Homo sapiens: one gene and its partners. The protein of the gene in region 1 interacts with the protein of each later gene in a pairwise test. Each region holds a gene or a part of one and is shown on either strand. Other genes may lie near its edges. The genes, in order: ABI3, DESI1 and EVL.

Region 1 (3,600 bases):
AGATGCCCAGAGCTGGGCCCAAGCAGACACTTTTCCTGTTTGGGCCAACAATTCCACATGTTCGTTTGGGGAGGAAACTGTACAGAAGAAGGCAGGCAAGCTAAGAAATCTGGGTGGAGATGAAGGAGCAGTCACTGCTCAGTTCTGGGCCTGTTTCCTCATTTAGTAAAGGAAGGTCCTGAACTAAATCAAAATCTGCTCTCCTGTCTGGTGTTAATATCCTGGGTTGATTTCTTTGCCTATTCAATCTTCTTGGTGACCTATGCTGAGGAGATGTAAGTTTTGGTGCATATGCTAATGAGATGTAAATGACATGCAAATGAGCATCTCTTTCCTGCTGTTGGAAAAGAAAGACAAGGAGGAGAGAGCCATCGCATGGGCTGCCCAGAAGGTTCTGGCTCAGGCTCCATTAGAGGCTCCCAGGTGTCTCAGACCTTGCTCTGAGAGTTTGTAGGTCTGTTCTCCATTGACAGGCCCTGAGGGGCACCCGAGGGCTCAAGCAAGGGGACCCCAGTGTGCAGCCTTGCCTGTTGGCCCACTGGCCCTACTCCACATTCACCCTGGACTTGCCCCCTACCTGCCTTAGAAAGGTACAGGCTAGAGTATGGCAACTCCATGACCCGACCAGAGATGAGGAAGCTGCCCGGGGAACCAAAAGACCGGAGAAGTTTTGCCCTAGCCCCCACTGCCTGATCTGGGACCAACAAAAAAAAATTTCTTGGCCAGGCGCAGTGGCTCACGCCTGTAATCCCAGCACTTTGGGAGGCCAAGGCAGGCAGATCACCTGAGGTCAGGAGTTGAAGATCAGCCTGACCAGCATGGAGAAACCGCATCTCTACTAAAAATACAAAAAATTAGCTGGGCGTGGCGGTGCATGCCTGTAATCCCAGCTACTCGGAAGGCTGAGGCAGGAGAATCGCTTGAACCCAGGAGGCGGAGGTTGGGGTGAGCTGAGATTGTGCCATTGCACTCCAGCCTGGGCAACAAGAGCAAAACTCTGTCTCGAAAAACAAACAAAAAAAACTTCTTGCCTTCAGCCACTGCCTGCTTACTCCTCCTGCACTGACTGGCAGTGTGACCCTGGCCAGTGCCTGGCACAGTGCCTAGAATACAGTGGGAATGTGCCCAGAGAATGTTTGGGTTCCCATTCGACCTGCTAATTAACTCACGAGTGCATATTTATGAAGAATCTTTTGCGTGTTGGGTGTGATTCCATGACGGGATACAGGATGAAACAGACAAGCTCCCTGCTCTCATGACACTTCCGTTTAAGGCAAGGGGGCGTAGATAACGAAAAAAATACATAGAGAATGTTTGATACTGCTAAATACCATGAAGAAAAGAGAACAAGGTAAATATGATAAAGAGGCAGTGAAGGCGTGGGCTGGGGGAAATCTTAGTGTGGTGAAGGAAGGTGTCTCTGAGAAGCTGAGGCCTGCTAATAAGGATTCTGAAAATAAGTACAGCACATGCCAAGGCCCCGAGGCAGAAACAGTTCAGCTTGTTCAGGAACAGAAGCCCAATGGCCAATGTGGCTGAAGGGGAGTGTGTGAGAGGGGGAGTGGTGAAGTTGGATTAAAGGGGATGAAGGTGAAGAGAAAGGCAGGAGCCAGACCTGGAGGGGCTGTACGTAGGCCACGGTTAGAAGCTTGAATTTTATCCTCAGGGTATTGGAAAGCTATTAGAGGGAATGAATGAATAAAGTCCCTCTGTTCTGGGCCTCAGTTTCCTTATTTGAGTTCCCAGACACCAATCTGCAGACTGGAGCTAAACAGTCACATGGAAAGCTTTTTTTTTTGGTTTGATTTTGAGACAGGGTCTCACTCTGTCACGCAGGCTGGAGTGCAGTGATGTGATTTTGGCTCACTGCAACCTCCGCCTCCCGGGTTCAAGTGATTCTCATGCCTCAGCCTCCTGAGTAGCTGGGATTACAGGCAGGCACCACCATGCCTGGCTAATTTTTGTATTTTTAGTAGAGACGAGGTTTTGCCATTGTAGCCAGGCTGGTCTCAAACTCCCGACCTCAAGTGATTTGCCCGCCTGGGCCTCCCAAAGTAGTGGGATTACAGGTGTAAGCCACCGTGCCTGACATGGTTTGTTGTGTTTAAAAATGTCGGCTGGGCACGGTGGCTCACGCCTGTAATCCCAGCAGTTTGGGAGGCTGAGGCAGGCAAATCACCTGAGGTCGGGAGTTTGAGACCAGCCTGACTAACATGGAGAAACCCTGTCTCTACTAAAAAAAAAAAATTACAAAATAAGCTGGGCGTGGTGGCACATGCTTGTAATCCCAACTACTTGGGAGGCTGAGGCAGGAGAATCGCTTGAACTCGGAAGGCGGAGGTTGTGGTGAGCCGAGATCGCACCACTGCACTCCAGCCTGGGCAACAAGAGTGAAACTCCATCTCAGAAAAAAAAAAAAAAAAAGAATGTCTGCTCTAGCCAGTGTTGCCTTCCTCTTTCCTTTCTACTATTCACCCCCACTCCAACCCCTAAAAGGACAGCCTGTTACTGAAGTCTTCAGGAGGGTTGTACTATCATCTGTACTCAGTCCTCAGCTTAACTATTTGAGAATGGGTATCTTTCCCTCCCTTTGCATCCATTCCCCAAGGCTGCAGATTCACTTTTTTAAAGTGAATTTAAAGTGATGTTGTAGCAAGTTCCTCTTGCTACATCATTCTGCTGGGAGCCACCTCAAACATCTAAGGGTTGCTGCTCTCTCCCAATCCAGCCCCTACTTTCCCTATATCCTCTCCCATCCCACCCCAGCCAGCCAAGGACCCAGTGGAAGATGCTGGCCCTTAGGCCAGGGCTGTGTGTATTTCAGGCCACAGACAAGCGGAAGGCGCTGGAGGAGACCATGGCCTTCACTACCCAGGCACTGGCCAGCGTGGCCTACCAGGTGGGCAACCTGGCCGGGCACACTCTGCGCATGTTGGACCTGCAGGGGGCCGCCCTGCGGCAGGTGGAAGCCCGTGTAAGCACGCTGGGCCAGGTAAGGGGCGTGGGGCGTGGGAAGGCATCTTGTGTCAGGCCTCAACTCTTCAGCCCGACTCAGACATTTTCTACATCAAAAGTTCCTTCCTGCTTTCCTCCATGTCCAAATGCCCAACTCTACAGCAGAAGGTTGGCACTTCCCAAGCTTTTTGGACCTCCTTATCTCTGTGGCTACGCTACAAATTCCCCGAAGGCAGAGCTTTTTCTTTCTCGGAATTATATCCTGGACATGAGAAAGTGTTATCTACCAATCACAGCAGCGCCCTATACAGGAAAGAAGCAAATGAACCCTGTTTGCATCTAAATACAAGCAGTGCCCTCATAAATATCCCAGACCCAGGGTGCTAGCTTGACAAGGTCATCTTCAGCCCTGGAAGCACAGCCACCACTATACAGTATACACCCTCCACCCCGCCACAGTGTTCTAGCGCACACACCCTCCTCCTTCCTTCCTGGATCCTTGACCGAGGAATTGCCCCATAAAGCACATGCACAGACCCAGCCACACATTTGGCCTGGCCTGTACATCACCCACATGTTCAGTGGGTGGGGTGTGTCTTTTCCTCCCCCGCCGCAGACCAGAGTTCCCACCCTTTCGAACTGTAG
Region 2 (3,823 bases), on another chromosome or scaffold:
CGCCACCACGCCCGGCTAATTTTTTGTATTTTTTTTTTAGTACAGACGGGGTTTCACCGTGTTAACCAGGATGGTCTTGATCTCCTGACATCGTGATCCGCCCGCCTCGGCCTCCCAAAGTGCTGGGATTACAGGCTTGAGACACCGCGCCTGGCCGTTTCTCATTTTTAATAAAAATATTCAAAATTTTTCTGCTCAGGAGTTAAATTAACCAGTATGAAGATTACATGTACCCCTATTTCTCTTCCTTTGTTTTATGTGTTACTGTGTTGCCTGCACATACACTCCCAAACGTGGAGGCTATAGTGAGGGAATCAATCACTTTCCTGTAACTGTGTTGCTTGCGTTTATTCTTTGGTTGGTGTAGTTATTGCAGGGTGGGGGCATTTTTACACTGAGGTCCTGGAATGGTAACACTACTTTCCTGGATGAGAAGGGTCTCACCTGAACCACTTAAGATGACAAAAAATACCTATGGTCATGGCCATTTATCAGGGACCAAAAGATGTCAAACTACCAGTGTCCAAAAAAAACTTAGGGCACACTAGAGTAAGATCTGCATATAAGAGCCTAGGGTAGCTCTGCGAAGTTCAAAGGAAGAAAAGAATTTCAGAATTATCTGGGAGGAGAAGGGCAGGCCATCAAACAGCAAAGTCCATCCAGCAGAGATAGGCAGGGAAGGTCTTTCTTCCACACACCGAATGGCACTACATGCTGAAGTCACTTACCACTTGCTTCAAGGTTCTCTTCTTGTTCTTCCTCTGCTTCTTCATCGCCCTCGGTTTTGTAATATGACTCCCACCCTGACATGTTGGCTACTGCTCACTAGGCGAAAGACGTTAACGTCAGTAACAGGCAAATTTAAATCGAAAAAATACCGACCTCTAGGTTCTTGTGAGATCTGTTCTAAAAGCTTGGTTAGTAGTGAGGAATGTGGACGGTAAATCCTGCTGCCTCGAAAGCTCGGCAGTCGGACTGCATGTAAATGCGCATGGGGGCCATCCCAGTAGCTGCCTCATCTCAGCTATCCCTCACGTTTCAGGGCCGGCGGCGGCCCGCGGAAGCCAGATCCCGGAGGTCCCGCCCCCGACGCCATTTAGACGGTGAGGGATTCCCGCTCCAGGATTCTATGCTGACTAACGGACCCCCTCGTCCTCAATACCGCCCAAAAACCTCCCCAAATTCCTCAATCACGCCCAATGAGATCTCAAACGCAGACAGGCCTCAAGCGCAGGCGGGCCGCAAGCGCAGGCGGGCCTCAAACGCAGGCGGGCCTCAAACGCGAGGTGCCGCCTCCTTCCCGAGGAAGGAGCGTGGTCTCGAGTCTGTCGCTGCTCCTCGGATTCGCACACTTAAGGCTAACGCTAACCCTCTAGCAAGGCTATGGGGGCGCGCGAGACCGACCGAGCGAAGCGGGACGAGGCCAGGCCTAGCTGGCGAACAACACAAATGGATAACGGCCCGCTTACCTTTGGCGCAGGGAAGCGACCAACTTGGACAGAAGACGACAATCCACGCATGCGCGGGCCCTGTACTCGGTCCCAATCAACGCCCTCTACGTCATCACGCATGTGCGCACTATATCGCGTCAGGCTGGCACGCACACTCCCCAACCAGCTTCTACCTATGTCCCTGACGAAAGCCAACCCATCAGCGAGAGCCCCGCCCCCTTCGGCAAAGCCCCGCCCCTTCCTACGTCAGGACTGTAAGCACATGCGCAAAAGTGCATCCCTGCCCCCGCCCCCTCTTCCGTGTGGGCCCTCCCTGTCCCCTCTCTGTCACCTCACAGTAGTCGTTGCCGGTAGCGGGTGTGGGGGCGCGAGCAGCGCAGGGCGGCCTCTCCCCCACCCCTCAGCCCGGGCCCGGGCTCGGTCCCCCCCTCTCCCTCCGCTTCGCACTCCCGTCGGGTACGGGAAGGTCCAAGCCGCTGCCGGGTGCCCGAGGGCCGTCGTGGCCGCCGTCGCCACGGGTCCCAATGGAGCCGCCGAATCTCTATCCGGTGAAGCTCTACGTGTACGACCTGTCCAAAGGCCTGGCCCGGCGGCTCAGCCCCATCATGCTGGGTGAGGGGGAAGGGGCCAGGTGGGCAGGAGGGCGGGAGCCAGGCCAGAGGGTGGCGGCTGGCCGAGGTGGGGAGACTTGGGCCACGACTCACGGGGAGACACATGGCCAGGAGGATGGAAGAAAAGCCGAGTGGAGAAGAGAGTGGTCTGAAGTTTGGGCCATCTGAGCCCCGCTTTAGCCTCGCAGATACCATCCTCACGTTTGAATTCAAGGGGAAGGGATGGAGGAGTCATGCCTCCACCTTGCAGGGGGCTTGGGCAGAAACCGAGCCCTCGAGAGCCCCTTCGACGAGGGTGTGGGGTAAACCAGCGCTGGATCCCGGCGGGTTCTCTGCCTCGCTCGGGTAGCCCAGTGCACTCCTGCCTCCTTGGCGCGGTGTAGGAAAGGTGAGGATGCCTGCCGCGCGGTGCCCCTCGTGGTGACAGAGACACTGCGGAGGTCGGGTGGCTCTCGGAGAACCTTGTCTCAGTGCCAAAAGGAAGCTCCCTTTGCAGTCCCAGGGATAGGTGGGATGGGGGAGATAGAGCTGCCTAGGGACCCAGCCATCGCCCCCAGGTAGGTCAAGTCAGGATAAGAGGAGCCCCGAACTCCAGAATTCACCAAGCAGTCTTCTCCCCACAGTTTCTAAGTTAATTGCTTTTGCTCAAATGGCAAGAAAGCAGTTTTGGGGGAAGTTTGGATGAGGCTGTGTGAATAAGGATTAGTAAAGAAAGTATTTCGGTTGTGCTCCATTAAACTACTTAACTGGCAGGAGAAAAACCAGCCCTCATTCAGTGACGATCACACCTTATTTCAACTTAAATACAGGAATGTCTTGTGTAACACAGGAATTGTCAGGTTTGTAATTTCGGGTAACAATGAGCAGGAAAGAATTCCAATTATTGAAAATTGAAGCTTTGACAGCATCCATTTGAATGGCTAGTTTTTCCTGGCTTCTGTGGAGACACTGGCGAATGATTTAGTTCATCTCTGTGAGACGAGGGGGCAGAGATCAAGTAAGGGAGGCTACTTTTGAGGGCATCCTTCAATGTCCTTGAGTTTCTAATATGTCGTAGTGAATTGAACTTAATCTCACAACCGTGGGTCCATGAGTTGTTTCTATATTTGGCTTCACATCAAAATCATCTAGGGTGCTTGTTAAAAATGCAGATACCCTCATTTCCAACATATATTGTAAATGAGATTAGAAAAAACAAGGTTAGAATAGCTCTTTAAATATGCAAATCAAAGGATATATATGTGCTTGCTTAGGCAAATAATTATCCGTAAGGATACACAAGAAATTGATAACAGCAGTAGCTTATGGAAAGGGGAACTTGATGCCAGGGGAACAGGGGTAGAAGAGAAACTTTGCTGTAAACTGTTTCTTACCTCTGGACCTGTGTATTACATACACATAATATCTATTTAAAATGAGAAAATTTTAATTATATGGATTCTAAGGCTTCACAAATACTAAATCAGAATCTCCTGGAGTTTTGGTCCAAAAATCTGTATTTTTAATGAGCTTATCAGCTAATTCTTATGTAGCCAACCCATTATTTGACAGGGATTTGGGCCTAGATAACCAGTTGTTAAAATGATTGAGGCACATCTGAAAGCAAAACTTACAAAGTCACTGAGGAAGCTGTTACTCATTAATAGATTACATCAGTCAAGTGTTTTTTTTTTGTTGGTTTTTTTTTTTGAGACGGAGTCTCGCTCTGTCACCCATGCTGGAGTGCAGTGGCACGATCTAGGCTCACTGCAAGCTCCGCCT
Region 3 (3,823 bases), on another chromosome or scaffold:
GAAGAAGGAAGAGTGAAGGCAAATAAGGGCACAGAAGGCTTTATCAGGCCCAACGGCAAAGCCTGCGAGCTGTGCTGAATTTAGCGCGTATGTCAGAATTTAGTTAGGGGAAGCCTTTGGAGGGAGGGTTTGAAGCAAAGGGAAAGACATCTCATAGAAGCTTAAGAAAATCACTCTGGGCCCTGTGTGGATAATGGCTGGCAGTGTGGCAAGAATGGAGGCAGGATGACCTCTTGGGAGGCTACCGCAGTCATCCAGGTAAGAGGTGAGGGTGGTTTGGGCCAGCAGTGGAGCAGTCAGGGTAGGCGGTGAGAAGTCACCAGATTCAGGAAGTGCCGTGGTGCTGTAGCCTCCAGGACTATCTGGTGGATCACACATGGGCGTGGGGGAAACATGAGTCAGACATGGCTTAGGTGGGTGGTGATTCCTTTCACCACGCTGGGGCAGCTGGGGTGCTAGCTGGAAGAATCTGTAGAGGTGTGGGCCTAGCAGCACAGGTTCCCAGGAAATGTGGGTTGAACAAGGCTGACCTGAGCAGGAAGTAGCTGAGGTCGCGGTGCAGCAGCAGGAAACGTGATATGGATGTGTGATATGTCTGCCACTTTTGGGGCCAGCCAGTTAATTTCGTTTCCTTCCCTGGTCTCTCTGTTGTCTTTGGTAGGCTGTGGGTTTTTCCGAAGCACGTACTATCTTCTAACGTATTATAGAACTTACTTGTTCTACTGTATACTGTCTTTACCCCTCAAGAATGTAAACTCCCAGAAGGCAGGGATTTTCGCCTATTTTGTTCAGTGGTGTATCCCCAGTGCCTAAAACATTGCCTGGCAATACACATTTATTGAACTGCTGGATTTAATTAACTACTTTGATATATGGTCCTAAAGATTCCTGTGCTACCAAAGTTGCTACTCAGTGGAGCTTCCTGGTGTGGCATGTTAGAGAAGAGACCAGAAAAACAGACATTTCACTTGCTGTCAGGTAGTGAAGGAGCTGTGGCTGCTTGGGCACAGTCATTACTGTTTATTCCACTGTGCTGCACATCTTGAAGCTGTAAAGATATAAGAAGTCTCGCACAGCCGGGGTTCAGCTTACAATCCTTCGCACCTAATTGTACGCCTTTGTGTGAGGGTTTGGAGGAGTCTCCAGGAACACCTGGTGTTTCCTTTCTCACAGGTATTTCCAGTCCTCACGGGCAAGTCAGAGAGTCCCAGAGGCAATTGAACAAGCCCTCAGAGATCACGTAGTCCGTTCACTCTCCATGGGAACCCGCACTTCCCTAGAGACCTGTAGCCAAATCATTTGGAGAGCTTCTGAAGCTTCTCTGCCTTCCTCTGTCTCAAAGAATCCCATGTGCCTCTAGTTGAGAAACATTCCTCTGGAGATTCTAGGTTATTCTCATGAGAATGTTACGATACTCAGGTGGGCTGGGGCAGAAAATGGATGAGAACTAGTGTAGTCCAATGGCTTTGCTTTGGTAACTGAACCCACAGAGGAGGAAAATAACAACAGCTCAGCTTTTCTCAGTGTTATACACCAACCATTACGCTAGTTACATGATATACATACTATTTAATTCTCATCCTTTGAGGTCTGGTATCACTATTGCCACTTTACAGATAAGAAAACAAGGGTTGGCCGGGTATGGTGGCTCACTCCTGTAATCCCAACACTTTGAGAGGCCAACGCAGGTAGATCACCTGAGCTGAGGAGTTCAAGACCAGCCTAGGCATCATAGTAAGACCTCCTCTCTTAAAAAAAAAAAAAAAAAGAAAGAAAGAAAATAAAATTAAAAAATGAAAATTAGCCAGATGTGATAGTGCATGCCTGAAGCCTATAGTCCCAACTTCTCAGGAGGCTGAGGTGGGAGGATTGCTTGAGCCCAGCAGTTCAAGCCTGCAGTGAGCTGTGATCACACTACTGCACTCCACCCTGGTGACAGAGCAAGACCCTACCTCAAAAAGAAAAGAAAACAAGGGCCTACAAAGTATCGTATTCCAGGTCACATTGTTGTCACTTGACGGAGCTTTTGATCTCTGAGAGGATCAAAATCTGCCCTCTCAGCTTTAACTTCTCAAAGCTAAACTTGTCCCAATTTGCAGAGTCAAGGGTAGAATCGAGGCCCTCCTGATCTCTATTTTGCAGTCTCCGTCATTCTGTGCTGTTAATACCACAAGAGACAAAAGAGACCTCGTCTGTCCTGTAGCACCCCGTGCCTGCGTGCGTATCTCTTGTCGATGCTCTGTCGGCTCAGGATCTCTCCTACCAGCCTAGAGCTCTTTCAGAGCAGGACGCTTGTGTTATGCATTCATGTTTGTCCCTGTGCCTAGTAAATAGCACAGAGTCCAAGTGGCTACTTGTGTCTTCAGGGGTGTTTGTAAGGGCAGAGCCGGGGTCTTCATTCCCAGGCTGTTGATTCATCCTTGGAGCTGAACATACTGTCCCAATCCTTGGCCCAAGCCAGGCCTCTACAGTTGTCCCAAGGCTGTGCTAAAACCTGTTCCACTTCACAAGTGATCAGAGTCACAGACTCTGGGGACACAAATTTTGAGATGAAGACACAGAGCAAAATATATAAATGTTTTTGAGGTTTGAGTAGCCTTAACGTCCACGTGGCTGTCAGATGGCTCCCCAAAGAAAGGGCTACGCCGGTGGCCTTGAAAGAGTATGGGAGATGCATATGAGACAGGGTCAGTCTAGGAATGTCAGACTCCCCCAACAGTTGGTTGGAGTGTTTTTCCAGATTGCACCAGACTTCACAGAGTAATGGAGACCAGCTGTCCAGGCATCTGAGAGGGTGACATCCAAGGAGAAAAGGCAAACGTCTTGATTGCCCATGATGTGGGCAACCAATTTGGATAGAAAAGAAGGTGTCAGGGTTTAACACTGAATGTAGACTTTATTTACCCAAAGCCTTTCTTTAATTCTAACACTCTCAAAAATGGGGCTCAGTCACCATTTGGGTTTCCCATGTTAATATGCAGAGAGCTAATTCATTGTCTTTCATTGCTGTAATGCAGCAGTTCTCAAAATGTACTCCAGAGATTGACCCTCCTAGGAGTCTGTAGATCAGAACTGTATTTATAATATTACTAAGACATCATTTGCCATTTCAGCTCTTGTCTCATGAATTCATGGTGGAATTTTCCAGAGCTATGTGATGTTTTGACATCATCACTGTGGCAGCTAATGAAATGTCTGCTTGTATATTCTTGTGTTTTAAAAAATTATTAGTTTTAATTTCAAATAAGGTGAATATGGATAGACTTAACCTACATAAAACAGAAGCTTTTTGGCATCCTCAATAATTGAGTGTAAAGGGGTTCTCTTGACCAAAAAAGTTTGAGAACTATGTGTGTAAAATAGTCAGTTGTATGGCTGCACTACAGACAGCAAGCATGGAATTGAAAATACCACCTGCAAGGTGGCGGTTCCCCCTGGTAGAGAGGAGGGGCTCTGGGTCTGGGAGGAGGATGCAGGCGTCACTTGAACTAAACAGCTTTATGACTTGCTGTCAGATTTCCTAGACTGTGTGGTGGGATCGTGGGAACCTACTTCTCACAGGCCTGAAGTACTTCACAATAAACATTTTAAGTCTACTTCATAGCATGAAACCTGTTTCACACCTGTGCCCATTAAGAAAAAAAAATGGCACCCTATAAATGATTTAATAATTACTAAGGGGAAAATATAGCTTTCCATTGGAGATCTGGCAGTCACCTCTTAACCAACCTACAGTCTACATTCAGTTGGCCTGAATTCTTCACACACACAACATCTTTATCAATGAAAAATTTTTAAATAGTTTCACATCCTAGCTTAGCTT

Evidence for each region.
Region 2: the proteins of ABI3 (region 1) and DESI1 interact in binary tests that used the Homo sapiens proteins (3 or more experiments, as listed by UniProt).
Region 3: the proteins of ABI3 (region 1) and EVL interact in binary tests that used the Homo sapiens proteins (3 or more experiments, as listed by UniProt).

Annotation. Positions count from the first base shown.
Region 1 is NC_000017.11:49,213,707-49,217,306, forward strand, and holds part of ABI3 (ABI gene family member 3), read left to right. Parts: intron 1-2,824; coding exon 2,825-2,992; intron 2,993-3,600. UniProt on the Homo sapiens protein: May inhibit tumor metastasis. In vitro, reduces cell motility.
Region 2 is NC_000022.11:41,618,992-41,622,814, reverse strand, and holds the start of DESI1 (desumoylating isopeptidase 1), read left to right. Parts: upstream 1-1,771; 5' UTR 1,772-1,975; coding exon 1,976-2,063; intron 2,064-3,823. Other genes in the region: XRCC6 (X-ray repair cross-complementing protein 6), read right to left, coding at 729-810. UniProt on the Homo sapiens protein: Protease which deconjugates SUMO1, SUMO2 and SUMO3 from some substrate proteins. Has isopeptidase but not SUMO-processing activity. Desumoylates ZBTB46. Collaborates with UBQLN4 in the export of ubiquitinated proteins from the nucleus to the cytoplasm.
Region 3 is NC_000014.9:100,068,312-100,072,134, forward strand, and holds part of EVL (ena/VASP-like protein), read left to right. Parts: intron 1-3,823. UniProt on the Homo sapiens protein: Ena/VASP proteins are actin-associated proteins involved in a range of processes dependent on cytoskeleton remodeling and cell polarity such as axon guidance and lamellipodial and filopodial dynamics in migrating cells.